4 linked regions of the Homo sapiens genome follow. The protein of the gene in region 1 purifies or fractionates together with the protein of each later gene. This does not show direct contact. Each region holds a gene or a part of one and is shown in the gene's direction. Other genes may lie near its edges.

The links.
Region 2: the proteins of EWSR1 (region 1) and HNRNPM purify together in Homo sapiens (affinity purification with mass spectrometry; 2 studies listed by BioGRID, with this or other methods). This does not show direct contact.
Region 3: the proteins of EWSR1 (region 1) and DDX17 purify together in Homo sapiens (affinity purification with mass spectrometry; 3 studies listed by BioGRID, with this or other methods). This does not show direct contact.
Region 4: the proteins of EWSR1 (region 1) and HNRNPUL1 purify together in Homo sapiens (affinity purification with mass spectrometry; 2 studies listed by BioGRID, with this or other methods). This does not show direct contact.

What each region holds. Positions count from the first base shown.
Region 1 is NC_000022.11:29,271,268-29,278,295, forward strand, and holds part of EWSR1 (RNA-binding protein EWS), read left to right. Parts: intron 1-948; coding exon 949-985; intron 986-1,112; coding exon 1,113-1,164; intron 1,165-2,470; coding exon of another isoform or gene 2,471-2,473; coding exon 2,474-2,597; intron 2,598-2,997; coding exon of another isoform or gene 2,998-3,015; intron 3,016-6,762; coding exon 6,763-6,949; intron 6,950-7,028. UniProt on the Homo sapiens protein: Binds to ssRNA containing the consensus sequence 5'-AGGUAA-3'. Might normally function as a transcriptional repressor. EWS-fusion-proteins (EFPS) may play a role in the tumorigenic process.
Region 2 is NC_000019.10:8,482,956-8,489,623, forward strand, and holds the end of HNRNPM (heterogeneous nuclear ribonucleoprotein M), read left to right. Parts: intron 1-202; coding exon 203-256; intron 257-2,647; coding exon 2,648-3,450; intron 3,451-4,068; coding exon 4,069-4,120; intron 4,121-5,735; coding exon 5,736-5,899; 3' UTR 5,900-6,159; downstream 6,160-6,668. UniProt on the Homo sapiens protein: Pre-mRNA binding protein in vivo, binds avidly to poly(G) and poly(U) RNA homopolymers in vitro. Involved in splicing.
Region 3 is NC_000022.11:38,482,936-38,489,337, reverse strand, and holds the end of DDX17 (probable ATP-dependent RNA helicase DDX17 isoform 1 precursor), read left to right. Parts: intron 1-1,222; coding exon 1,223-1,459; coding exon of another isoform or gene 1,460-1,465; intron 1,466-2,897; coding exon 2,898-3,403; 3' UTR 3,404-5,900; downstream 5,901-6,402. UniProt on the Homo sapiens protein: As an RNA helicase, unwinds RNA and alters RNA structures through ATP binding and hydrolysis.
Region 4 is NC_000019.10:41,274,368-41,281,395, forward strand, and holds part of HNRNPUL1 (heterogeneous nuclear ribonucleoprotein U-like protein 1), read left to right. Parts: intron 1-1,791; coding exon 1,792-1,931; intron 1,932-4,709; coding exon 4,710-4,809; intron 4,810-6,795; coding exon 6,796-6,908; intron 6,909-7,028.

The sequences.
Region 1 (7,028 bases):
ACTGCCTTTAAAAAAAAACTAAATTTATCTAACTTTAATGCAGTAGCGCTCTGAAAACTATTTTCCGTTTGTTTTTACTACTTGTAGACACCTCAGTGGACCAGTTTTTGGTCCCTTTGGATGCATGTTATAAATTTCATAGGAAAAGGAAAATTATAGGGAGGTTTACTTAGATAAGGGATGAAAATTCATGTCTTTTTTTTAAGTTGAAATCATTTTGAGTTGTATGAAAGACAATGGTGTTACCAAATTTTTCCCAGAAAGACTAAATGCTTTTTCTTCTTTGCCAGTCTTCAGGGTTCTGCCTTAGCTCTGCTTCACCAGGGTTTATAATATATCTAGCTTTTAAGTTGCTGCACAAATATAGTTCTGACACAGCAAACCCTTTAAAACACTGGAGTGTGGTGACTGCCTTCTTGTCTGCCATTCCGTTTCACTGTCGTTGAGCTAGGGAATGATGGTTTGTCTAACTTGCTAAAGTGAGGGGAGTGAAAACTAATTTTTGAGGAGAGGTAGGTTCTAACGTAACCAATCTAGTGTTAAACTTTGTATTATTGTTGCATGCCTCCGTTTTATATGAGGGTAGAAACTTCTGATCCTGTTAGTAGATCTTGTTGTCAGTCTGTGATATTGATGATCATCCTGTATTTTAAATGACAGTTGGGATTGGGATGGGTTTTGTGGTCATGGGAACATAAAAAGTATACCTGCCAAATCAGCTGATCTTGACCTCATTAGCTAGTCCCACAGTCAAATGTTGAGTTTAACTGGTTTAGACTTTTTTTTCTGTTAGATGTTGAGAGGTAAGGGGGACTCATTTGGACCTGTGTTGGCAGGTCTCCCTACAGTTTAAAGAATTCTTCCTGCCACGTGAATTCTTTCCCCCTTTTTTCTCTTCTCCTTGTTTCTGCTAACTTTACACTATTTTTCCTCCTTGTTTTCCTCTAGATTACAGTACCTATAGCCAAGCTGCAGCGCAGCAGGGGTAAGTCAGTCTTTTATAACCGTATTTTGTGTGTGATTAATATTTTTTGAATATGGAGCCTTCTATAATTGTAGAGGTGGTATTTGAATGTTCTCTATTCAAGTTATTGCATTTAATTCTTTTGCAGCTACAGTGCTTACACCGCCCAGCCCACTCAAGGATATGCACAGACCACCCAGGTAATCTTTAAAATAATTACATGTAGCTGCACCTCCAAGTAAAATCAGTATATTATCCAGTTATCTTTCAGTTATCCAGTAAAACAAATGAGTAATGTGTTTGGAATAGTAAAATACCCAGGCATTTTAAACTTTCACAGTGGGAGTGCGAAGGACTCCATTGTGCCATCATAAATGAAACCATTCAGAAGCTGATAATTGACTCTTTATAACTTTTTAATATGATTTCTCAAGTTAGGTGCCCTGTTCCATGCTTGGTCCTTCTTCATTATGTTTAAATTTAGTGAATTTATTCATCATAGCAATTCTGCAAAGGAAGAGGATGATATGACCATTCTGCAGAGGAGAACATTGCAGTGCATAGATATTAAGTAACTTGCCAGTGGTTGCACAGTAAGTGGCGGGGTTAGCTCTAAAAACTGGCGACCTAGCCAAGGAGCTGCTGAGCTCTTTCCAGTGAAGAGTCTGTTGAAAAGCCTAGGCCAACAGATTCTAGAAATTAGCCTTCTAGTGTTTTCAAGATAATGTTGAATTCTGAAATGATCCATGCCATAAAATGGATACTAATAACTGCCATGGAAACATGTTCTAGGACAAGCAGAATGTGATGTCTCTGGCAGATCTTACATAACTGGTCATTTAAACAAACCTAGAGAATAATCATGCTAATATCTGAAAGAACAACTCTTCCTTGCCTGATTTTAAGTATTATGGATGTCTAAGTTCAAAAGACAGTACTCTTGATGTGCCCACCATAAGAGGACATACAGCGTTCTGGTTCATTTTCTTTGAAGTGGTATAGTAGTTTTAAAGTCTTTTTGTCAGGCTGAAAATCTGGTTTTCAATTTTTTCTGACAGATTTTAGCCCTCTTCATTGCTTTCTCTGTTCATTTGTCTTCGTACCTTTTGTTTCCAATCACTAAAACTGTGCTACGCTAAGTGCTAGCAGTTAATACACCTGTGCCCTTATTGCTCTTCCCTTGAGAGTGTCTTGTTAATCTCATGTATAGTTAACTGAGGTTTTGCCTGATTATCTTTTTTTTCCCCCTTTTGAGAAGCTGTGAATGACATTGCCTACTTACCTAATGAGCTTTTTCCGTAGCTAACTTTACCATAATATGAGTGAACCAGATAAGGGATAACATTCATGATACTGTGATTATTTGTCTTGTTTTGTTGTTTTTGTTTTGTTTTTTTAATCTTCTAGAAAGGAATGTTTTTGATTTTGGTTCTCCAATTTAGTCCATTTTATTGCTAAAATACAAAAGTTCATGTATGAAGTTCTTGCATTCGTTTTTTTTTGGAGCAGGCATATGGGCAACAAAGCTATGGAACCTATGGACAGCCCACTGATGTCAGCTATACCCAGGCTCAGACCACTGCAACCTATGGGCAGACCGCCTATGCAACTTCTTATGGACAGCCTCCCACTGGTAAGGCCTGCCTTGGAGAGATTTTTGGGTCGTTCTGGCTAGGGCATTGGCTAAGAAGCTTATTAGTCATGCTTTCGGATGTATATTCTGGTCCATACCTTGGCATCTGGGGAATCCTTTATTCTTAGGAAGAGGTATTTTTTCTCTTTCTTCCCTACTCTTATAGTCTTGAGAGATCTCCAATAGAATGTGGGTGGGATAAATTCCAAGAGAGAAAAGAACTTTTAACTGTTTGAATAATCTCACGATGAAATGGAGACTATGTAAAAGATTTTGCTAATGCTAATACTGAGTAAGAATGAGTCTTCTTAAATTGAGCTGCTTAAAAATCAAACTGGTTTTCACATGTTTGCTTCATCTGATAGTGTACCCTCTACTTTTTGTTTTGTGCTTTCCACAGTAGAAGGGACCAGTACAGGTTTGACTATCCTGCTCATTCTTGCATGGGAAATGCTTTCCATCTTGTCTAACCCTGTAATGTTAATCCTTTAGGTGTTTTCATTTGTTGAACCCCCAAACTTTCTAACATCACACACAGCAAGGTGCTAATGAAAAACTGCTTCAGGTGCCATTTGCAGATCCATGTCCTATTCTTTATATGATTTTGGGAAAGGTTTTTTTATTTAATATTACTTTGTTTCAAGCCTTAATAATAGTTATTTACCTTCCCAAAGGTATTTCAGGTGATTTCTCCCCAGCTGATTTTCCCCTGTTCCCTGAAGGATAGATTGCATGATGAGATTTATTTAGAGGAGCAGACTGCCACCCTGCATGTATCATGTTTGTCTATTGGTTGGTTTCTAGTCCAGACACATTTTATTTTCTGTTTTAAGTGTTATGAATTATTTTAATCCATGGTATGTCTTGAATATATATAACATTATTCCAAGATACTAAAAAATAAACTATTCTAAGAATTAGAAGAAATTGTATTCCGATACTGAGGTTGGGTGGGATACATGAAAAACCTATGATAATTTTTTTGTGTTCAGTGCTGTGTAATGTTTCAGGCTGTCTCCCCCTGCCCTTTTATTATTGCTGTTATAAAAGACTCTAATAAAGTCTTAAAGATATCAGAGCTCTTATTTTCAAACTGTCTTTAGTTCTCCAAATTATATATAGTCCAGTTAAGGGGAAAAACCTGTCTGTAATTTATCTCATTGAGTACCAGTGTCCTGATTTTGATGGGAAGTAATTCCTAACCTCTTCTAGGGTGTTTCTCAAATAGGATGGGAAATGTTTATCTAAACTTTCTAGTGGTGTTAATTGCAGCTGTGGGAAGAGCTGGAACTAAGGTTATGCAGTTTGGATTTTTTAGCATAGAATTTTGAAATTGTGAGATAAACTTCATGTATTAAAGCCATTACATTTTTTAAAACAAGCATGATGTGAAAGTTAATGTGGCCTAGATCTAGCCTTCCGAATCCTTAGATCATTTTACAGGAATGAGACGGAGTGATTTATAGGCAAATTAATGGTTCTCTAGAGCCATGTATCACATTGTCGTTGGTTGAGAAATCCCCATCATGACTGTGGGCCTAAAAAGTACAGGTCATTCTAGTTTAGAGACTAGTAGCTTTGATGAGCTGGAGATTGCACTTAGTAATAATAATGTTTGTATAAAATTCACAGTTTATAGAGTGGCCTTCTTGTCTCCCTTAATCCTCCCAAGAACTTTTGGGGTATAAAAACACCAAAATTAAGCCTGATGAGCAAACTGTGTGAACAAAACTTAGCAGGAGCCTAATTGGTAGTGCGTGGGTTCAAGCACACATGCTGCATTTTTCCTTACCTCATACTGCCTTTACACATGAAAGTTATCGGATAGTCATTGGAGGGAATACATAGAAATACACTGTTCTCTTCTAGGATTTTTAAAAATTAAACTTCAGAAGAAAGGGGTTATATAAACCTCAATTCAATGGAATTCTTAAAAACTTCTTAATTTTTACGTTGAACAAAAGTTTTGGTTTGTGTAATATTTCTTACCACCTTTTTCCTTCAAGTTGTCAGCACATAGTAGGTGTGTTTTCTTTTTTTGCCACTGGTCTTTTGTTTTTTTGTTTTTTTGTTTTTTTTTTGGTCATTAAATCATTTTGCTCTGTTGATTTTTGTTCATTTTGCTTGGCTGCTTTTGTGGGTACTACAGATTAATTAAAAGGTTATTTATTAACCCAGTGTCTATTGCTGTAATCTTTAGCATGACAAGGCCCTAACTGTTGCTGCATAGTTTTATGACATGAGTTATTGCCCTGATCACTTTTAGTTTTTTGTTTTTTTAATTGCCCTCCTTGTAAATCTTATAGACGTGTCATGTAGTGGGGTGTAATCGGTATATGAACGGTAGGGTAGATGGTATTAGATTCTAATTTAAATAAATGAATGCCTTATGTGGTTGACCTTAGGACTCTGCAAAAACTTAAGCAGTTCAGATGAACAACATGCCAACTCAAAAACTTTTATTGCTTGGGGCTTCCTGTTTTCTGGAACTATGTATACTTTCATACACATTTTAACTCAGCAGTTTTGACAAGGACATTACTATCTCTGTGTATAATTTCAGAATTTCCTTTTAATATTTGAGGTAGAGAAGAAAGAGTATTATTATATTCTGTGCTACAAATGGTGATTGTACAAAAGGAAGCTGATACTTGTTTCTGGCCAGTACATGAGGACACTTTAAGGCCCTAAATCTTAACTAAAATGGGCAGTCTTGATTCAGGATTTATTTTAAATATGGAAGCTTTTTCTTTAGTGAGATGTAGACTTTTTTTTTGGATATAAATGCCAGCACCTAGACCAAAGTTTTGTTTTGTTTTGTTTTTTTAAGATAGGGTCTCTGTTGCCTAGGCTGGATCTTACTGCAGCCTTGACCTCCCAGCCTCAAGCAGTCCACCCACCTCAGCCTCCCAAGTAGCTGGGACTGAAGGCTCACGCCACCATGCCCAGCTAAGTTTGTTTATTTTTTGTAGAGGCGAGGTCTCACTATATTGCCCAGGGTGGTCTCTAACTCCTAAACTCAAGCAGTCCTCCCACCTCAGCCTCCCAAAGTGTAAACCAAACTTTTTATTGCATGGCTTAATTGTACCCATTGACCATGAGGAAGAAGAGTCCAGCACCAGGAATGGTTGTAACACCTCCTACAGGAAAGGTACTCTAGTTAGGAGCTGCAGACTTTCGTGGTTTTGGTCATGCTCCACGCCGAAGTCCCGAAGGGAAAGGCATGGATCCTGCCTGGTCTGGCAGAGGCAGGAGCTAGGGATAGAATGCATCTTGCTTTGCAGCATACCTGTGAAACCAGGTTTTTTCTGACACCTGGTTAGTGAAATACTGAAGGGGAGGAGAGACTCTAGGGTTTACCTCCAATATTGCTGAGCAGGAAAAAGGCCTTTTGCTTGTGGTAGGTAAGTAAGAGGAATGGAGCTGAGTAACTTGATAACGAGGCAGGAATCTGCTTTATGATGTGAAAACATTACCTTTTAAATGTTTGTTTGGAGCAATATCGAAGTTTAATTTTAAATAATTTACAAAAAAAGGATAAACTGTGTTAAGCAACTATAATTTATAGCTTATTTTTATTAATCATGTGCTCAAGTAATTAAGCTTGTGCTTCACATGATGTTAGTGCTTGGGACCAAAAGAAAGTGATTAAATTAATTACTACCCAAATTACAGGTTTTAGTGCTAGAACTAGTACCTGGATCATTTTCTAATTATTTTAAAATGCTATGTCATTTGCCTTTTACCTTTTCTTCTGGGATGTTTTATTCCTGCTTGAGGGTATTTTGGGGTAAGTTTGTTTACAAACTTGTTAAGACGACCTGCTAGCAAAATCAGTACAGACTTGGCAAAAACAGACTTGTCTCCTATTCACAGCATTCAAGAGGGGGCAGAAGGAACCCTGTTTTCTGTAGCATGACATGCCATTTCTGTTAGGTGTGGTTTTAGAGCAAATGAGACAGTTACTTTACCAAAAACTAGGTACATTCAGAGAACTTAGGCTTTAAATACCAGTTTGTTGCTACTCTTGCGGAAGGGGGAATATTTAAAGGGATTCAATATCCTGATGGTTTAAAGTAAGTGGTTTACAAATTGTTCTGATAATGAGTGTCTAGGCAGATCTCTGAGGGGACCTGAAATCTGATGCAGCTCTCCTTTGTTCTAGGTTATACTACTCCAACTGCCCCCCAGGCATACAGCCAGCCTGTCCAGGGGTATGGCACTGGTGCTTATGATACCACCACTGCTACAGTCACCACCACCCAGGCCTCCTATGCAGCTCAGTCTGCATATGGCACTCAGCCTGCTTATCCAGCCTATGGGCAGCAGCCAGCAGCCACTGCACCTACAAGGTAAGGCCATGGTGTCCTTAATGCGTCAGTCTTATGTTGGAGGGAAAGAAAGCAACTGTGTACACTTAAAATAATCTGT
Region 2 (6,668 bases), on another chromosome or scaffold:
GGGTCTTGGCATCGTGACCCAGCATCAAGGACTCTCCTAGTTCTCTGTAAAATGATCTTGTCTGTGCGTGTGTTTCTCAAACCCCTTTCCCTTTATCTTGTCATTTTTATTAGTAGTATTTCTACTCTGGAATCTGTAATGAGCACATTTCTATTGCCATAGAGGAATTTGGCTAATTTTTTTTTCTTCCTGATTTCCTTAGAAATCCTAAGTAATGCACTGAAGAGAGGAGAGATCATTGCAAAGCAGGGAGGAGGTAGGAACCGCTTAGTTTGATGTTTTGTTTTTTTAGAACAGGCTGTTATCGCTGGGGACTGTAGAGCTTAGTGGTGAGAAGTGCGGGTTCTGACACAGACTGCCCGGGGTGGGAGCAGCTCTGCCTTTTTCTAGCTGTGTGACGTTTGGCAAGTCACTGAACCTCTCTGTTTCTCATAGCACTCATTTGTAAAATGGGGGTGTAATAGTACCTGCCTCAGGGATGCTGTGGAGAGTGAATGCATGTGAAAGAGTGCTTCCGCACGTGCTGTGCACAGGCCGACCATCTTCATTGTTAGAGTACCTCTCTTTTGGGGGTTTTGTTTTCCACATTATAAATTCCTAAAAGTAAATATATTTTCCTTAGACTTGATGATAAGACTGAAAGCACACCACCCAACAAGTAATAAATGCTTGTAAAATAGATAAATGTACTCATTAGGAAAATATGAAGAAAGTATGGTCTGAAACCCCATCGCCCAGTGATGACTGCCGGAAACATTTTGTTCTGAATCTTTCATTCATACACAGCTTTATGGATACTGAGAACAAAATGTACTTTTTGAGCATTTTTGGAGACAGTCTCGCTCTGTCTCCCAGGCTGGAGTGCCGTGGTGCAGTCTCTGCTCACTGCGGCCTCAACTTCCCAGGCCTAAGCGATTCTCCCACTTTAGCCTCCCAAGTAGCTGGGACTACAGGCGTGTGCCACCTGGTTTGGCTAATTTTTTGATTTTTTTTGTAGAGATGGCATTTTGACATGTTACCCAGGCTTATCTCAAACTCCTGGCCTCAAGTGACCTGCATACCTCCAGAGTGCTGGGATGACAGATGTGAGCCACCACACCTGGCCCAAATGTACTTTTTCAGCCTGATTTTCCCTCTGAGTATCTTGGCATCTCACCTCCTGACTTCTGTGTTGGGCTGGCTCTGGAGCTCCACGCTGGTACCATTTCCTCCCATTTCTTTTTTTTTTTTTTTTTTTGAGAGACGGAGTCTCACTCTGTCGCCCAGGCTAGAGTGCAGTGGCACGATCTCGGCTCACTGTGACCTCCGTCTCCTGGGTTCAAGCGATTCTCCTGCCTCAGCCTCCCAAGTAGCTGGGACTACGGGCGCACGCCACCATACCCAGCTAATTTTTGCAATTTTAGTAGAGATGGGGTTTCACCATGTTGGCCAGGCTGGTCGCGAACTCCTGACCTTGTTCCGCCCGCCTTGGCCTCCCAAAGTACTGGGATTACAGGCATGAGCCACCACACCCAGCTGCCCCACCTCATTTCTGATGCCTTTGGGCAAAGTGCCCATTCTCGCTAGGTTCCTTATACTGTGGGGAAGTTCTGAGACGTCTCCCCTCTGAAAGTCACACATTCTTAGAGTCGGGCCTGCTTTGGCCGCTCACTGTGTGCTGTGCAGCTAGAGAAGCAGGCGCGGTGTGGCCAGTTACAGAGCCAGTTAGAGAAACTGCCCAGTTTCCTCTTGAATTGGTATCTTTGACTAGGCTGCTTGGGTCGGTCACAGGCTGGCTCTGGGCTGATGGCCACTCTCAGAGGCAAGCGACAGGGTTTCGGGGAGGAGCCCCAAACTCGGCATGTGGAAAGGGGTGGCCTTGCTGACGGAGCCAGACCCTGCTTTCCAGAGTTGCAAGCACCACGGGTGGGGGCGTCCCTTCGTTCTGCTGACTGACCCCCAGCCGCTACCAGAGCCCACTCTGCAGTGCCATCAACATCTTCTTTCCAAAGCCAGCAAGTCATTTGGTTTCCCTGACAATAGGGTCCCCAAAAGTGGCCAGCTGTGTGCATTTGTACACAGAGGATCTCTCGGTGTGTGTTTTTTTGACCTCTGCTTGATGGTGTGGCCGAAAATCCTTTCTCTGTGCCCTGGGAGCGCTGAGGAAATGCAGCCAGAGTGGCCCCCAGCAGAGCATCCTAGAGGGACAGGCTGGGAGGGGAAGGTGGGAGTGACTCCGACTTGTCTCCACATAACTCCTGTTCATTACCCTGGGTGGCCCCCCGAGTGGGGGGTGTCCATGCCTCCCCCTGGAGCATTTCTCAGTGTCTGCTGATGGAGAAACCTCAGATGTCTCAGGAATTGACGTCCATGGTTCACAAAGCTTGTCACAGACACTAGCACCTCACAGACACACATACAGGGGTGTTCTTTAGAAGTTGTGTTATGGAAATCTCAGCTGTGGCATAGAGCAGAGAGAATGCTGGGAGGCCCCCATGTGCCCACCACACAGCTGTAGCTGTTGTCAACATTTGAGGGGTGTCTTAATGGTAAATTATGGTGGGCCTTTACCCCTGATCCATGCCCATGAGCTGAAGTGGTCTGGCGTGTTGTGCACACGCACACTCAAGTTCTTGACACCCACCTGTGTTTTGTGTCCCTGTTTCAGGTGGAGGTGGAGGAAGCGTCCCTGGGATCGAGAGGATGGGTCCTGGCATTGACCGCCTCGGGGGTGCCGGCATGGAGCGCATGGGCGCGGGCCTGGGCCACGGCATGGATCGCGTGGGCTCCGAGATCGAGCGCATGGGCCTGGTCATGGACCGCATGGGCTCCGTGGAGCGCATGGGCTCCGGCATTGAGCGCATGGGCCCGCTGGGCCTCGACCACATGGCCTCCAGCATTGAGCGCATGGGCCAGACCATGGAGCGCATTGGCTCTGGCGTGGAGCGCATGGGTGCCGGCATGGGCTTCGGCCTTGAGCGCATGGCCGCTCCCATCGACCGTGTGGGCCAGACCATTGAGCGCATGGGCTCTGGCGTGGAGCGCATGGGCCCTGCCATCGAGCGCATGGGCCTGAGCATGGAGCGCATGGTGCCCGCAGGTATGGGAGCTGGCCTGGAGCGCATGGGCCCCGTGATGGATCGCATGGCCACCGGCCTGGAGCGCATGGGCGCCAACAATCTGGAGCGGATGGGCCTGGAGCGCATGGGCGCCAACAGCCTCGAGCGCATGGGCCTGGAGCGCATGGGTGCCAACAGCCTCGAGCGCATGGGCCCTGCCATGGGCCCGGCCCTGGGCGCTGGCATTGAGCGCATGGGCCTGGCCATGGGTGGCGGTGGCGGTGCCAGCTTTGACCGTGCCATCGAGATGGAGCGTGGCAACTTCGGAGGAAGCTTCGCAGGTTCCTTTGGTGGAGCTGGAGGCCATGCTCCTGGGGTGGCCAGGAAGGCCTGCCAGATATTTGTGAGAAATGTAAGTGGCTCTTGGGGAACTTCTTGGTGGTGGTGAGCATGAGGGGACAGGGGAGGCAAAGATCAGCAGGATGAAGTCAGAGGTGGCGCCCTTCAAAGGGGACCACACCTCCTTGCCACTGTCCCAAACGTTTTATGCTAGTGGGACAAGTAAGGAATGTGAGAACTGTGGGTTCTGGAAGAGCCTGGGCTTCTCCACTGTGCTAGAATATGGAGCAGACGCTGAGCTCAGAGACTCCAGTTTCTGATTGGTTGGCTTGAAGAGGCACTATGTGTTGCACGATGGTCCAGGGAAAGAAGTGGCTGTAACGGAATTATTTTCCCCAGCTCAGCCACCCTTAGCCACTATTTAGTGACTGTGGGCTGCGCACCGCAGGCCTGAGTGTCCCATCCTGCACGGTGCTCCCACAGGCAGAGCCCCAGGGAGGGAGCTGGCTGTGCCGCTTCACAGCCTTGTCCCACATGTATCTATTAGTTTCCTGCTGATCGCCTCAGTCTGAAGGGCAGCCAGCTTCTCGGTATAGTGAGAAATCTAGCATGGCCCTCAGAGCCAGCTGCAAGGCATGCCTTAGGATTTGGTTTAATCACGCATCAGTCTCCCTTTTCTTCTCCCCTTCAGCTGCCATTCGATTTCACATGGAAGATGCTAAAGGACAAATTCAACGAGTGCGGTAAGTGTTGGGAACGGCTTTGTAGGTGCTTCCCTCGTGCTTGTTGGTGACGCAGCCGAGTCAGCAGCAAAACCTCCCTCCCAGCCCCCTCCGTCGGCTCAGGACCCATGGCCTTGCCATGTTCTGCCCACGCCAATGCTCAGGCAGGTTGTTGAGTGTCCTGTGATGTGTCACATGTTTTTCAGCTGTGTTCTCATTTCATCCTTACTTCCTTTTTTCTTTTTGAGTCTTTGAAACAAGGTAGTAGTGTCCCCATTTCACAGATGAGTCAGGCAGAGTCTTCCTTCTGAGGTTACCTGGCTTCTAGGTGGCAAGGCTAAATAAATACATCCCAGACGAGGTCGCTTTCCCCTCAGCACAGCTGGTGTGGGGCCTCGGAGAGAACACAGCCCAGCAGGTGCCATGGGGAGGCGGTGCAGGCTCTGGGCACACAGCAGCTCCTGTGAGGGTGAGGCTAAGGTCTTGTGGTTTCCTGGCACATCGGGCAACTCTTCTGGAGGGCTCTGTCTGTGGCTGAAAGCAAGTTGTCTTCCTTCCCTGCCCTCCAGGGTGAGCCCCCACCCCGCATGCACCACCTCTGTTCTTTTTAGCTAGAGGGGCCTGAGCTAGAGGTCTGGGCAGCTGCTTCCGCACTGTCCTCCCGCTTCCTGTTTCAGCAGTGGCTCCGATTTCACCACCATTGCTGCTTCTCCATGGTTCTTGGGGCAAGCCGTTGAGTCATGATCTGCCTCTTTGCTCCATTCTTCACCTCTTTCCCCACTCCTGAGTTCCCATGTTGTAGCTAGATATTCTGAAAAGGCCAGTGGGATCACAGCGCCCCCAGCCCCCACTTTTGCAATGCCTGGAGCGGCCCTGTGCCTTCAAGAGGAAGTCCAGACTCACAAGCCCCTTGAAGACCTGGTCCTATCCTCCTCCATCTCCCTCCTGTCCCAGAACCTGAGCGGCAAGTGCTGCACGTGTCCCGCAATGCTCTCGTGTGAGCCAATTACTGGCAAGTCTTCTTTCTGGTGAATTTCTGTGTAAGCTCACTCAGAACTTGCCCCTGAGGACCCCTCCACCCTACCTGCCCTGGGCCCTCTCTTAGGCACTGAGTTCCCACCTCTGGCATTGTGGCCCTACCACCTTTGGTACTCCTGGAGTAGAGCCTTTGCCCTCTAGGGCTCTGTCCACGGCGTTGACACATATCTGGATGCTTAACGGGTGCTCAAATGAATAAGTGAAACCTGCTGGCTTTCATTTGGACAGTACAGACGTGTCCATTGGATTGCGGATGGCTTTGTAACCAGGGGCGGTGGCATATCAAAAATGAAGACTTTGTAAAATGTATGGGAACTTTCTGCCTATAAAGCTGGCTTTACACTGCGCCTTCTTTTTTGAACTTCCTGAAGCGTAAAGGCGTGCATTGAATCCGCCAGGAAGGCTTTTCATGGGGCAGGGGCAGGCTCTGTTAGCAGAAGAATGGCAGTGTGGCTGAGGGGGCCGTAGTCATTGGTTCTCGCCATTGTATTCTGAGCCTTTGTGCTCTAGGCTTCAGGGCCTCTCCTTTTTGACTCTGTCCACCAAAATCTAACAAAATCGGGACTGAGTGTCGTCTCTTCTTCCCTCCCTGTCCTAGGCCACGTGCTGTACGCCGACATCAAGATGGAGAATGGGAAGTCCAAGGGGTGTGGCGTGGTTAAGTTCGAGTCGCCAGAGGTGGCCGAGAGAGCCTGCCGGATGATGAATGGCATGAAGCTGAGTGGCCGAGAGATTGACGTTCGAATTGATAGAAACGCTTAAGCAGTTGCCTTTTTTAAACATCGATACGAGACCTCTGAATTTGTATTTTTTCTTGTTAACCATTTTAATTTGTTGGCTGGATGTATAAAGATGTTTAAAAAATTCAGTTGCTTTTTGGGGTAATTTGAATTACTTTTTTAATGACTGGGGTTCCATTTGACTGTTTGCATTGAGATTGCAATGTGCGCAATTTTTTTTGTAGTTGTGGCATCTTGTTGACATCGAATATGACTTTGATAATAAATACCGGTTCCTGAAAACGGCCTGCTTGTGTGTGCTGTGTGGGCAACCACGCGAGGTGTGGGGAGCTGGGGTCACTCGAGCTTCCAGTCCAAGCAGCAGGGATCTCATCCCCTCTCTTGCTTGTCTGAGGCCCCAGGGGTGGGTGCCTGCCCACAGATGGGGGGAGACTCTTCCCTGGAAACTGCCTTCCTGTGGGCTGTAATCCCCCGGCTTACAATGGAGCGTTTGGCTGTTTAGAGCCTTCTGAGGCCAGGCGCGGTGGTTCATGGCTGTAGTCCCAGCTACTCAGGAGGCTGAGGCAGGAGAATCACTCGAACCCAGGAGGCGGAGGTTGCAGTGAGTGAGATCGCGCCACTGCACTCCAGCCTGGGCAACAGAGCAAGACTCCGTCTCAAAAAAAAAAAAAAAAAAGCCCCCCGAAAGCCATCCTGTCTCCCTGTTGTGAAGTTAACGCCCTGGGGCACAGGCCCTGCCTGAGTCAGGCTTGTTCTCTGGCTTTTTTTTTTTCCTGCTGAAACAGACCAAA
Region 3 (6,402 bases), 9.2 Mb from region 1:
GTGGTCCCGTGTCAGAAGGCGGAGTTTTCGAAAGGAGGCCGCCAAAAATAAAAGGCAAAGAGACGGGATCGGCTGCAGCGGTTTCCCAAAGGAGGAGGGAGTGTGCATCGGTCTGGTAACAAACAGAGAATGTTTTTTAATTATTTATATCACAAAAATCTGTGTTTTATCTAGGATATTTTCTGAATATTCTTTGTAAAATGCAGATTTTTTTCCACAAAACAGTAGGATTCTTTGTTATATTCTTAAAATTGTTTGTTTAAGTAGGTAAAAATATACATTCAGCTGAAAGCATTACACTAACATTTACATTTTAAGCCTTAGGAGGTTATTCAGCCCAATTCCCAGCAGTAGAGAGAATACTAAACTTGTGTCTCAAGGTTTCATGGTTTTCCCACGTTCTTTGGCTATTAATTTAATTTCCCAGGTCACGTAGACAATCATTGATAATTGAAACAAGTCCTGAGTTGAAATAACCTTGAGTTGAGCAAAAATATCCTCATTTTGGCAGAAGCTGGGCTTGGTAGTACAGTAAAATTTTAGTGTAATGTGCTCTTGTAATTGAAAGGGGATAGATAATCTGGATGTTTCTGCAAAGGAAAATAGGTGTGTACTTAACAGCTTTGGCTCTACTCAGTTTCTTAAAAAGATAAGAGCAAAAAAAGTTAAATGTTAATCAAAACATTTAAGTTTCCTTTAAATTGTAGTAATAAAATATATGAAGCTCCTTTTTTTACTTTGCTCTGTGACTGGTTTAAAGGTAAGTTTGTTATGTTGTTGGTAGATTTTGCCAGGCTTCTCCCAACAGAGTAGAAGTGATTTGGCCTCATAACTTCACAGTGGTTTACCACTTTGTTCTATGTTCTGGTTTTGTAAAGGATAGTACTGGAATTTGCGTCTGAAGACCAATATTGGTGTAACTCCTGTCAGTATATTGGTAAAATGTAGCAGAGGCAGGAGTTTGGATGTTTGGATGGGATTCCCTTAGGATTCTACAGCCAATAAAGATCCTATTTCCTATGCATGTCCCAGGAATCAGTAATCCTCTTTTACTCTGTTGGGATGAGTCTTTTTTTGTTTCTGTTCAGAGTGGTTACTAACTTCACCTTCTTTCCTCTTGCTGTCATCTGCATTCGTGCTTCCCACCTGTTGTTGGCATGTCCTTTACCTTCTCTTTCCCTGCCACATCAACCTACACACTGACTCATCATTGACGTGGAAGATGTGGAAGATGTCAAGTTTGTGATCAACTATGACTATCCAAACAGCTCAGAGGATTATGTGCACCGTATTGGCCGAACAGCCCGTAGCACCAACAAGGGTACCGCCTATACCTTCTTCACCCCAGGGAACCTAAAACAGGCCAGAGAGCTTATCAAAGTGCTGGAAGAGGCCAATCAGGCTATCAATCCAAAACTGATGCAGCTTGTGGACCACAGAGGAGGCGGCGGAGGCGGGGGTAAGGGTAAGTCCTGGAGTTTTCCAGGTACTGCCAAGGTATCTCTTTACGCCTTCTGTGACTTGCTTTTAGTTGCTGTTTTTAAGAAGGCTGTAAGTATGTTGCTTAATAGCAAAGGACACTGCCTAATGCTTTTTATAACCTTTTTCAACTAAGAAAACGTGAAGTTTGTTGTGATAGTCCTATTAGTTAAGCTAAATTGTGAATTTTTTTTTCTTAGAGACTGGTCTGAGGTTTGGTTTTGTTTGTTTGTTTGTTTTGAGACGGAGTCTTGCTCTGTCGCCCAGGCTGAAGTGCAATGGCGCGATCTCAGCTCATTGCAACCTCTGCCTCCCAGGTTCAAGTGATTCTCCTGCCTCAGCCTCCCAAGTAGCTGGGATTACAGGCACCCGCCAGCACACCCTGCTAATTTTTGTATTTTTAGTAGAGGTGGAGTTTCACCATGTTGGCCTGGCTGGTCTCGAACTCCTGACCTCTGGTGATCCACCTGTCTTGGCCTCCCAAAGTGCTGAGATTACAGGAGTGAGCCACCAAACCTAGCTGAGGCTGGTCTGTGGAGTTTCACCATGTTGGCCTGGCTGGTCTCGAACTCCTGACCTCTGGTGATCCACCTGTCTTGGCCTCCCAAAGTGCTGAGATTACAGGAGTGAGCCACCAAACCTAGCTGAGGCTGGTCTGAGTTTTAATGTGGTTGCTTTGGCGGGGCGGGGGCAGAGACAGTCTCACTCTGTTGCCCAGACTGGAGTGCAGTGGCACGATCTCGGCTCACTTCAACCTCTGCCTCCTGGGTTCAAGTGATTCTCCTGCTTCAGCCTCCCAAGTAGCTGGTACTACAGGTATGTGCCACCATGTCCAGCTAATTTTTGTATTTTTTGTAGAGACAGGGTTTCACCATGTTGGCTGGTCTTGAACTGCTGACCTCAAGTGACCCTCCTGCCTTGATCTCCCAAAGTGCTGGGATTACGAGAGTGAGCCAGTGTGCCCCCGGTCATGGTTGCTTTTTTAATACTTTCAAAAATGCTTAGTAGTATATTAGGTTTCCAGTTTTCCATACGGAGAGGTCAGTCATTTTACACTGTTTAGTGGTGGGTAGAAACTGAGACATAGCAGTTGCATCTACAGTTGCAGAATATCCTAGGATCTGGGCTTCCTGACTCAAGGTTTCATATTGTAATACCGTGTTTCTTGATCATCCTCAAGTAAGGGGCCTAAAAGGGTGAAAAGGTCTAGTGTCCTTTAATTTTTACTGTGCTTTTGAATGTGCCCCATTAAAGAATCAAATTATGAGTATATTTTTACAGTACTAATTGGGAGGCTGGCCAGCATAACTAAATATCAAGGAGACATGTTTAATACTTTTGTACCCAGTAGAATTTTTACATTGTTATGTTTAGGTCCTATATCTGCCATTAAAAATCTTCTTGTATCTTCCCATTAGGTGGTCGTTCTCGTTACCGGACCACTTCTTCAGCCAACAATCCCAATCTGATGTATCAGGATGAGTGTGACCGAAGGCTTCGAGGAGTCAAGGATGGTGGCCGGAGAGACTCTGCAAGCTATCGGGATCGTAGTGAAACCGATAGAGCTGGTTATGCTAATGGCAGTGGCTATGGAAGTCCAAATTCTGCCTTTGGAGCACAAGCAGGCCAATACACCTATGGTCAAGGCACCTATGGGGCAGCTGCTTATGGCACCAGTAGCTATACAGCTCAAGAATATGGTGCTGGCACTTATGGAGCTAGTAGCACCACCTCAACTGGGAGAAGTTCACAGAGCTCTAGCCAGCAGTTTAGTGGGATAGGCCGGTCTGGGCAGCAGCCACAGCCACTGATGTCACAACAGTTTGCACAGCCTCCGGGAGCTACCAATATGATAGGTTACATGGGGCAGACTGCCTACCAATACCCTCCTCCTCCTCCCCCTCCTCCTCCTTCACGTAAATGAAACCACTCAAGTGGTAGTGACTCCAGCAGACTTAATTACATTTTAAGGAACACTGTCTTTCCTTTTTTTTTCCTCTTCGCCTTTTCTTTTTTTTTCCTTTTTTCTTTTTTTTTTTTTAATTTTTCCCCCCAACCATCGTGATTTGTCTTTTCATGCAGATTAGTTAGAATTCACTGCCAGGTTTCTTCTGCCCACCAAAATGATCCAGTCTGGAATAACATTTTGTAAAAAAAAAAAAAATATATATATATATATATAGCTGACTGGAAGAGATTAATTTCTTCCCCCAACTTCTTGCATGTTGAAGATATTTGAGCTATTTTTCATCTAAAAGAGTAAGGTATTAGGCCCTTTTGTGGGAGCCCCATGTTTTGTTTTTCTGAGTTGGTGGGGAGGGAGGGAGGGGGAGGGCTGAATTGTTTTGCAGAGGAAGATGGCATCTGTGCTTTAAATTTCTCATTACTGGGTTAGAAAACAAAGAGGGATTGCCCTGCACATTTTCTTTTGTGCTTTTAAATGTTTCTTAAGTTGGAACAGGTTTCCTCGGGCCTGTTTTGACTGATTGCTGGAGTGCATTTGATAGTTAAAAATTACTAATTGGTTTTATTTCCCTTCACACTCTGCCTCCCCACTTCTCCCCCCGTTACTGAAAAATAACCATTTTAGTGTCAGGCTAGAAATTGAATTGCTGAGTTTTGTGTATCCTTTAAATTAAAAACCACAAGTGTTTATTGTAGTGGTTAAACTGTAGCATCTCAGCATCTGGGTGGAAGCTGCCTATATTTCTTCCCAGTTTAACTGGGGACCATCTGTGAAATTAATTTTCCATCCAGACAGCTGCTGTGAGCAAATGAACATAAATGCTCGCTGGAAATTTACTAACCAGTTTTTATATTGACCTGCAGTGTAAAAAGCACATTTAATTATAAACAATATATTCAAAATGGGCAAATTTTATTTTCAAATGCAGTGTAGAGCTAGATTAAAAGCAACTCTTTGCCACCTACTCTGCCCTTTTGGCAAAGTTACCTTGAACAAAGAATCTTAAGGGTTTATTAAGAACTCTTTATTTTCTTCATACCCTGTTCTCTGCAGTGCTTTCTAACAGCTTCTGGGTGCAGATTTTCTTCGGCATCCTTTTGCACTCAGCTTATTACAGGTAGGTAGTGCTTAAGAAAAGTCATGGAGGACTAAAGCCTAAGTCCTTTTCACTTTTCCTCCATCTGAAGGTAGGTGAGTTCATCCTCTTCATGGTAATGCTGTTTTACCAAGACTTTATAGCAGATGGACCCAGAAAGAATTTTCTGCTATTGTGTTCACTACAACAGGATAGGGACATCAGACAGCCCCAGAAACCCCTTCCAGATCTGATATGGGACTATTAATTTTTATGCTGTTAATTGGTATTCATTCACAATGCAGTTGAAGGGGGAAGGCTCCACTGCATTCTTTGGCTAAGGCCTGAATGCTTGCTCATCTGTAAGATCTATACTCGAGGTTTTGTTTTCCTTTTAAAATTCTTTAGGGAGAGAGGGATGGTTTCTGAGGGGTTCTGAAAGTATGATTCAATGTGCAACATACAGGTAGGTCTTCAGCATAAGCTGAAATATATGCATGTAAAAACTTTGACATCTTTTTTTTTAATTTTCCACTTTCTTCTTAACTTTACTTCTCTTTTTGTCCCCCCCCCATCTTACAGAAGTTGAGGCCAAGGGAGAATGGTAGGCACAGAAGAAACATGGCAAACTGCTCTGTGCTTTCAAACCAAAGTGTTCCCCCCAACCCCAAATTTGTCTAAGCACTGGCCAGTCTGTTGTGGGCATTGTTTTCTACAACCAAATTCTGGGTTTTTTTCTTCTTTCTTTAAACATAGAGGTACCACCACAAGGGATGCCCTACTCTCTCGCAGCTCTTGAAAGCATCTGTTTGAGGGAAAGGTCTCTGGGCAAGCAAGTGGTTATTTGGATTGCTTGCTTCCCTTTTTCCACCTGGGACATTGTAATCATAAAATAACAGTAAATTCCAAACCTCAAAAACTATTATGGCCTGAGCACAGCTGAAATCTAGCAGAGTTTAACTCTTCTGCCTCCATGTCTGTCACTTATAATTCAGGTTCTGCTGTTGGCTTCAGAACATGAGCAGAAGAATCGTTTTATGCTAGTTATTGCATTCATGGTTGAAACTCAACTTAGGGAAAGGGTTCCAATGTATTAAGCAATGGGCTGCTTCTCCCCAATCCTCCCTAACAATTCGTTGTGTGGACTTCTCATCTAAAAGGTTAGTGGCTTTTGCTTGGGATCAGTGCTCTCTATTGATGTTCTTGCTGGTCTCCAGACACATTCCTGTTGCATTAAGACTTGAAAGACTTGTAGATGTGTGATGTTCAGGCACAGGATGCTGAAAGCTATGTTACTATTCTTAGTTTGTAAATTGTCCTTTTGATACCATCATCTTGTTTTCTTTTTGTAGGTATAAATAAAAACACTGTTGACAATAAGGTGTGAGCTTTTATTGCTTAATTCTCTGAATAATTCAACGTAGACGTCTTAAAACAGTTTTTGTTTCAAGACAAAGATGGGGGATATTGGATTGACTGATTACTTTCGCACCTAAAACTGAAAGGAAAAAACTTAATACAAGAATTGGAATTGAAAACCCTAGCAGGATACCTAGTAGGTAAGGGTTTGGATATATCTGTATCTGCTCATAAGTAAAACAGTGATTGTGCAAATGGTACTCGCCTAAGTACCATTAGGTTATTGGTATTAAGGTACTAAGTACAAGGCAGGTATCAGCCACTGGTTTGAAAAAATTCAAACCAGTAAAAGATGAGTCACAAAACTCCTCCAGCCAAACCTGGTAAATTTGGTTTGCTTCTGGCCTGAAGGCAGTGTGAAAGTGAAATAAGTTTCACACTTAAAACTAGCTGACACCTTTATATCTTGACCACCTAAATTTGGTCATCTACCTGGAAAGTGGAAATTCACAAGAACGTACCC
Region 4 (7,028 bases), on another chromosome or scaffold:
CTGAACCGCCCTGTACACACAGGGGTTGTCATCTAATCAGGAAGGGAATCTGAGTGCAGCTGGGGAAACTTAACTCTTTGACAACCAGTTCCCGTTTCCATCAGCTGCTCAAGTTCCTGGTGAAACCAATGCCACTGTGTCCTGTGAGGCACTAACCTGGCCCGCCCTGCTGTCTGTCCTCCAGTTCAGTTTTCTTTCCACTGGATAAGTGGCTTTCACCTTCACTGTGCATCTGAGCATTTGGAGGAATTATTATAAAGGTCCTTTCGCTCAGACCTCCTAGTCAAGAGTCTAAGTGGTCGAGCCTATGAATCTAAATTTTTACATGCACCCAGAAGCCCAATCAGGTCTGAGAACACTGCACTTCTCAACAGAGCAGAAGATAAGCAGCAATTTATTCATCTATTTCTACAGAAGCTTCTGTTTATAAAGCACTGGCTACATGCTTTAGTAAGAGATAAAAATATACACAATCTCTAATATCACAAGCTCTCGAAAACAACATCTACCCAGAGTAGAGGTAAACATTGTTTAAAAAGTGTTGGGTGGCAGTGGTTCATGAGGCAGCGTCTAGATGAAATGCAAATGTACAGATCATGACGGTCAGCCTTTAGAGAAAGGAGAGCGCCTCATGGGAGGGATGGTCAGGAAAGGCTTTCTTGGAGGCGTGACTGGCTCCTTGAATATTGAGAATATTGAGAAGGGTAAGAGCAACAGTAGGAGAGTCCTAGGCCCATGAAAGGAATTAGGAGCCTATGGGGCACCTGGGCATTGGTTCCTGGGTGGCAGGTGTGGATCAGGGTCAGATCCCTGTATAGCTATTGGAAACAGAAGTCCGGTTCCCAAATTGATAGAATTACCACAGAGGGCGGTAGGAATATATGGTGGTGGTGATTAACCTTTTTGTATTCTAAAAACTAGTTTGAGCCTGGGTAACATGGCGAAACCCTGTCTACGAAAAATATAAAAATCACCCTGGCATGGTGGCATATCCCTGTAGTCCCAGCTGTTCAGGAGGCTGCGGTGGGAGGATGGCTTAAGCGCAGGAGAACAGAAGTTGCAGTGAGCCGAGATCATGCCTCCGTACTCCAGCCTGGGTGACAAAGCGAGACCTTGTCTCAAAAAAAAAAATTAATTTGAAACTGCTGAGGATATGGACCCTATCCCTAGCAAATACACATCCCCACCAAAGACATGTGTTGACAATTTCTGAGGATACCCCTGAAGCCCCATCCTTGGATCCCACCAGATAAAGAACCCCAGTTCCTCTCTGAGGTCATACAGGCCAATTTGCAATACTGCACATCCTCCCTACTCAAAGGGAGAGAGGTTGAGGGGTGTGCTGGTTCCTTTTGAAACTGCCCCCATGATGTGTTCACTGTGTACTCCTGGTCAGCACTTGGGGAAGTTCCCTCTGCCTGCTTCTTTCTTAGGACTTCTAAAACATCAGCCAGGCCGGGCGTGGTGGCTCACGCCTGTAATCCCAGCAGTTTGGGAGGCCGAGGCAGGTGGATCACCTGAGGTCGGGAGTTCGAGACCAGCCTGGCCAACATGGAGAAACCCTATCTCTACTAAAAAATACAAAATTAGTCAGGTGTGGTGGTGCATGCCTGTAATCCCAGCTACTCAGGAAGCTGAGGCAAGAGAATCACTTGAACCCGGGAGGCGGAGGTTGCGGTGAGCCAAGATCGCACCATTGCACTCCAGCCTGGGCAAAAAGAGTGAAACTCCGTCTCAAGAAAACAAAACAAAATAAAAACATCAGCCAACTGTGGGCATTTTCCTTCACAGATAACTGCGACCTCCACTTCAAGGTGGCCCGAGATCGGAGTAGTGGCTATCCGCTCACAATTGAGGGCTTTGCATACCTGTGGTCAGGAGCCCGTGCCAGCTATGGGGTCAGAAGGGGCCGTGTATGCTTCGAGATGAAGGTGAGTAGGAGCAAGAGAAGGGGAAGGGACAGAGAAGTCCATCCATTGTAATATCCTGATACCAGCCACCTTGGTCAGAGCTGCAACTGCAAAAGAGATTGGATTGTGCAATACCATGTCCAAGCAGACAAAACTGTGATGAACTCAAGACAACTACATCATTGCTAAATATCATATCAGAAAAGCAGGCCAACCATGCATTGCTTCATCAAGCAGATATTTCCTTGGTGAGATTTGACCCAGGTATTATGTAGTCAACCAGTGTAGTGATGACATGTTTGTAGAACTGAGAAAAGAAGTTGTTTGGAAGAAAAGTGATCTAGAAAGAATAGACTCAGATGTCACTTATTAAAGGGAGGCCAGAGGGAGAACAGGGCAAAGAACTGCCAGCTTAGGCCAGCCTCTGCTGTCATCTCTCCACAGTTCCATGTCAAGTTATGTTTATGAAAATAATAGATGCTCATGTTTAACAAAAGTTCAGACAGCACAGAAAAGTACAGGATAAAACAGGTTATTCTCGCCAGGTGTGGTGGCTTTTGCCTGTAATCCCAGCACTTTTGGGAGGCCAAGGCAGGTGGATCACAAGGTCAGGAGTTCAATACCAAACTGGCCAAGATGGTGAAACCCTGTCTACTAAAAATACAAAAAAATTAGCCGGGCATGGTGGCGGGTGCCTGCAATCCTAGCTATTCAGGAGGCTGAGGCAGAGAATTGCTTGAACCCAAGAGGCAGAGGTTGCAGTGAGCCGAGATCACGCCACTGCACTCCAGCCTGGGTGACAGAGTGAGACTCTGTCTCAAAAAAAAAAAACAAAAAAACAAAAACAAAAAAAACAAAACAGGTTATTCTCATGTCCTCTCAGTTCCCATCCTACCATCCTACTCCCTGGAGGGAACTTCTGTGTTAACAATTTCTTACCTGTGGTTTGTGTATCCAAACTTACTGATGATAGCTAATAAGTATAGAGCTCTTTGCATGCACAAGATACAGCACCAAGCTCTTTACATGGATTATCTCCATTAATCCTCACAGTACCATCTGGAAACAGGTACTGTTAGCCCCAGTTTTTAGAGGTAGAAGCTGAAACACAGAGGGTTATATTTTATTGACCACGACACCATTGATGTAAGTTGTGCATTATTTTATGTACCTCTCATAGAGAAACACTGCAACAAAATAAACTACGCAGTGTTTTCTTTTTTTGTTTGTTTGTTTTTTTGTTTTTGAGATGGAGTTTCACTCTTGTTGTCCAGGCTGGAGTGCAGTGGCGCGATCTCGGCTCACTGCAACCTCTGCCTCCCGGGTTCAAGCAATTATCCTGCCTCAGCCTCCCCAGTAGCTGGGATTACAGGCATGTGCCACCCTGCCCGGCTAATTTTTGTATTTTTAGTAGAGATGGGGTTTCTCCATGTTGATCAGGCTGGGCTTGAACTCCTGAGCTCAGGTGATCTGCCTGCCTTGGCCTCCCAAAGTGCTGGGATTACAGGCGTGAGCTGCCGCACCCAGCATACGCAGTGCTTTCTCATCACATTTATTGTAAAATGGATCCTGATTTCAGAGATTTTAAAATGTGTGTCTGAAAAGCCAGTGAGGCCACAGGTAGATACGGATATTCGGCAGTCTAGTCTTTTAATACGAAATTAAGTCAGAAGGCTTTTTTTTTTTTTTTAACTTAATACTGTATCTTGGACATTTTTCCATAGCAGTACATTAGCCCAATGTACTGCTTTGCTCCTTGTTTTTTGTTTGTTTGATTGTTTGTTTTGTTTGTTTTGTTTTGTTGACGGAGTTTCACTTGTTACCCAAGCTAGAATACAGTGGCGCAATCTCTGCTTACTGCAACGTCTCCCTCCTGGGTTCAAGCGATTCTCCTGCCTCAGCCTCCCAAGTAGCTGGGATTACAGGTGCATGACGCCACGCATGCCTAATTTTTTGTATTTTTAGTAGAGACGGGGTTTCATGATGTTGGCCAGGCTGGTCTCGAACTCCTGACCTCAGGTGATCCACCCACCTTGGCCTCCCAAAGTGCTGGGATTACAGGCTTGAGCCACCGTGCCCGGCCTACTTTGCTCTTTTTAACTGTTGCATCATATTTTGTGGCATGGATATACCATAATCAGTGCTTTATTGATATTTTTTCTGATGTTAAAATATATATATATATATATATGTGCACATATATACATCCAATGCTGCACAGAATGTTGCATATACAAATACAGTCACACATACGTAGACATACTTGTCCACATATTAGTGTATCTATAGGATGCTGAGTTATAGAGCATGTGCATTTATGGGGTTTTGTTGTTTTTTTCTTTTAATGTTTTTGTAAAGATGGGGTCTTGCTATGTTGGCCAGGCTGGTTCCTAACTCCTGGCCTCAAGCCATCCTCCTGCCTTGGCCTCCCAAAGTGTTGGGATTACAGGTGTGAGTCACCATCCCCAGCCATTTACAGTTTTGATAGAGACTTCTAGATTGCCCTCTAAAGACACTGTAACAGTTTATCTTTCTACTAGATGTTACAAGAGTCTCTTAAACTAAAACATAACCGTATTTTGAAATGCCTGTCTCTGTGGCCCTGTACTCTACTGATCCCTTTGGAGGCCCTGGCTTCGATTCGGTTCAACAGGCTTTTCAGAGCTGCTTAAACGCTTCTTCTCCAGCAAGAAAAGCCATTGCTATTTTTTAATGCCTGATATGCTTCCCTCCTATATTGGCTCATAACCTACGGCCTCCAGAGAAGCAACCCTGAGCCCTTTTGTCCTCTTTCCTCAGATCAATGAGGAAATCTCCGTGAAGCACCTTCCGTCTACAGAGCCTGACCCCCACGTGGTCCGTATCGGCTGGTCCCTGGACTCCTGCAGCACCCAGCTAGGTAAGGAGGGGTCAGCTATGCAGTCCAGAGAATAGAGTGACTGTCCCTACCCTTGGATTTTCAAGGCTCCTAAGCTTCCTTTTCCAGCGTCAGACTTAGAATAGAACTAGGCTGAAGTGGAACAGGTACAAGGATTAGGTATATGCCACTGTCTCTGTCATGCTGTATTCAACTGAGAGGACTATGGTCATGAAACAACTTTTCTGTGAAGAATCAATTCTTATCCTTCATCTTTTAGGAGAGGGTCCAAAATTCTCTTTAGGAATCTATTCCCTTTCTGTAAAAAGGATCAGTGTCTCCTGCCCTTAAACCAAGCTGCTGATAAGTTCCCAAGCTCCATTAAGTTCTGTCTGTATTTTCTGTCCGGAGCCTAACCTAGAGGAAAAAGGGGAGCAGAGACCAGTGAGGCCAGGGCTAGTTGGGAGAGGGGCAGGGGCTGCCTATTGAAAGGTTTTGAATTTTGCGGGTCCCCAGGCTTCAATGACCTTCTGGTCCCAAGTGACTGATTATTCTGACCAATGCTGACACCTCCTGCCTTCCGTTTATGATCATACAAACGTTCCAATTATGAAAATAATATGTGTTGCGTATAAGAATTCAGGCCATACAGAAAGGGAAAAATGAAAATCCTTCCTAAACCTGTGAGAGAAACTAACCAATGTTAACATTCCATTTGTAGTCTTCTGGACATTTATTTTTTTGTACATCTTTAAACTGGATCACACTAGGACTACTTTGTATAGCCTTGTTTTAATGTATGATGGGCATATTTTTGTAAATAACTGCAGCTTTTTGACTACTGCATAATTTTCCATTTTATAGTTGCATTATTTAACAAGTCCCCTTCTGTAGCTCATTTAAACTTATTGCAAATTTTTGCTGTTTTAACACTTGAGCCATTATCCTGGTCCATAATTGCCTGACCACTTAAGACTAATCTTTAAAAATAGATGATATTCTCACTCACAAGTGTTTGTTTAAAAAATATGTTCACATGGACTTAGAGAGTGGAATAATAGATAATGGAGACTCAGAAGTGTTAGGGGGTAACAAGGTGGAGGAGGATGAGAAATTGGTTAATGGGTACGATGTACATTTTTTAGGTGATGAACACCCTAAAAGCTTGACCACTATGCAATCTGTGCATGTAACAGAATTGCACATGTACCCCATAAATTGGTACCTCCTCAAAAAGGTAGATATGTTAGCACCAAAAAAAAAAAGTATACAGTTTTCATTTCCATATGTGTTAGCACTTTTTATTTAAGACTCATAAGTCATCTCATCTTATCTCTGTCTCCGTTTTGAGATGTAGGTGGTGGCAGTTGATAGGGATGGGGAAACAGCCCAGGAGGTCAAGCACCATATCCAGGGTCACATAGCTGGTTTGTAGCAGAACGAGCCCTGGCATTCATGCTTGTCGGCCCCTGCTTTTCTAACAGCATACTCTTTGGGTTCTGCCCGGAATCTCTAACTCAGGTGTCAGCCAGAGCCCTTGGGATCTCTCAGTCATATCACTTCAGCACCCAGTTCTGTAGCCTGAGGAAATCTAGTACCTTTCCCAGGGGTCAGTCCTCATGGTCTCCAGGAGCAAAATCCAGCCCCTTCACTGATTTCTACCACAAGTAGACTGGACTGAATATTGGGTGTCACAAGGAAGGGTTGCATCTCAGCATACAGCCATTCTCCTCCATCCCAACTCCTGTCTTCCTTCCTCCCTTTCTTTTCAAATTCTCCCCTCTGTGCAGAGTTATTCAGTTGAGCTCCTACTCCCAGACTGGACAATGAAACCCATCAAGCCCTCCAAGTTCTACATCATTAAGGGCTTCCTTTCACCCTTCCCCACCCCTATTTTAAAAAGGCATCTGATTAATAAAACTAGTAAAGAAAATGATTTTTTTCTTCAAAAATAAAAGTATGTGGCAGCCATTGAGGCTGTTATGACCATCGCAGGTTTAACCTGCCTTTGCCTATTTCTTCCGTCAGGCGAAGAGCCTTTCTCCTATGGCTATGGAGGCACTGGGAAGAAGTCCACCAATAGCCGGTTTGAAAACTACGGAGACAAGTTTGCAGAGAACGATGTGATTGGCTGCTTTGCGGTGAGTGCTAGCAGCCTGTGGGAGTTGGCAGAACCAGATGTTGGGCTACAGACTTCTTTTTCAGGATACCTCTATCCATTGTCTGCCCCATATCCAGCCACTCTCGCCATACTTCTTTGT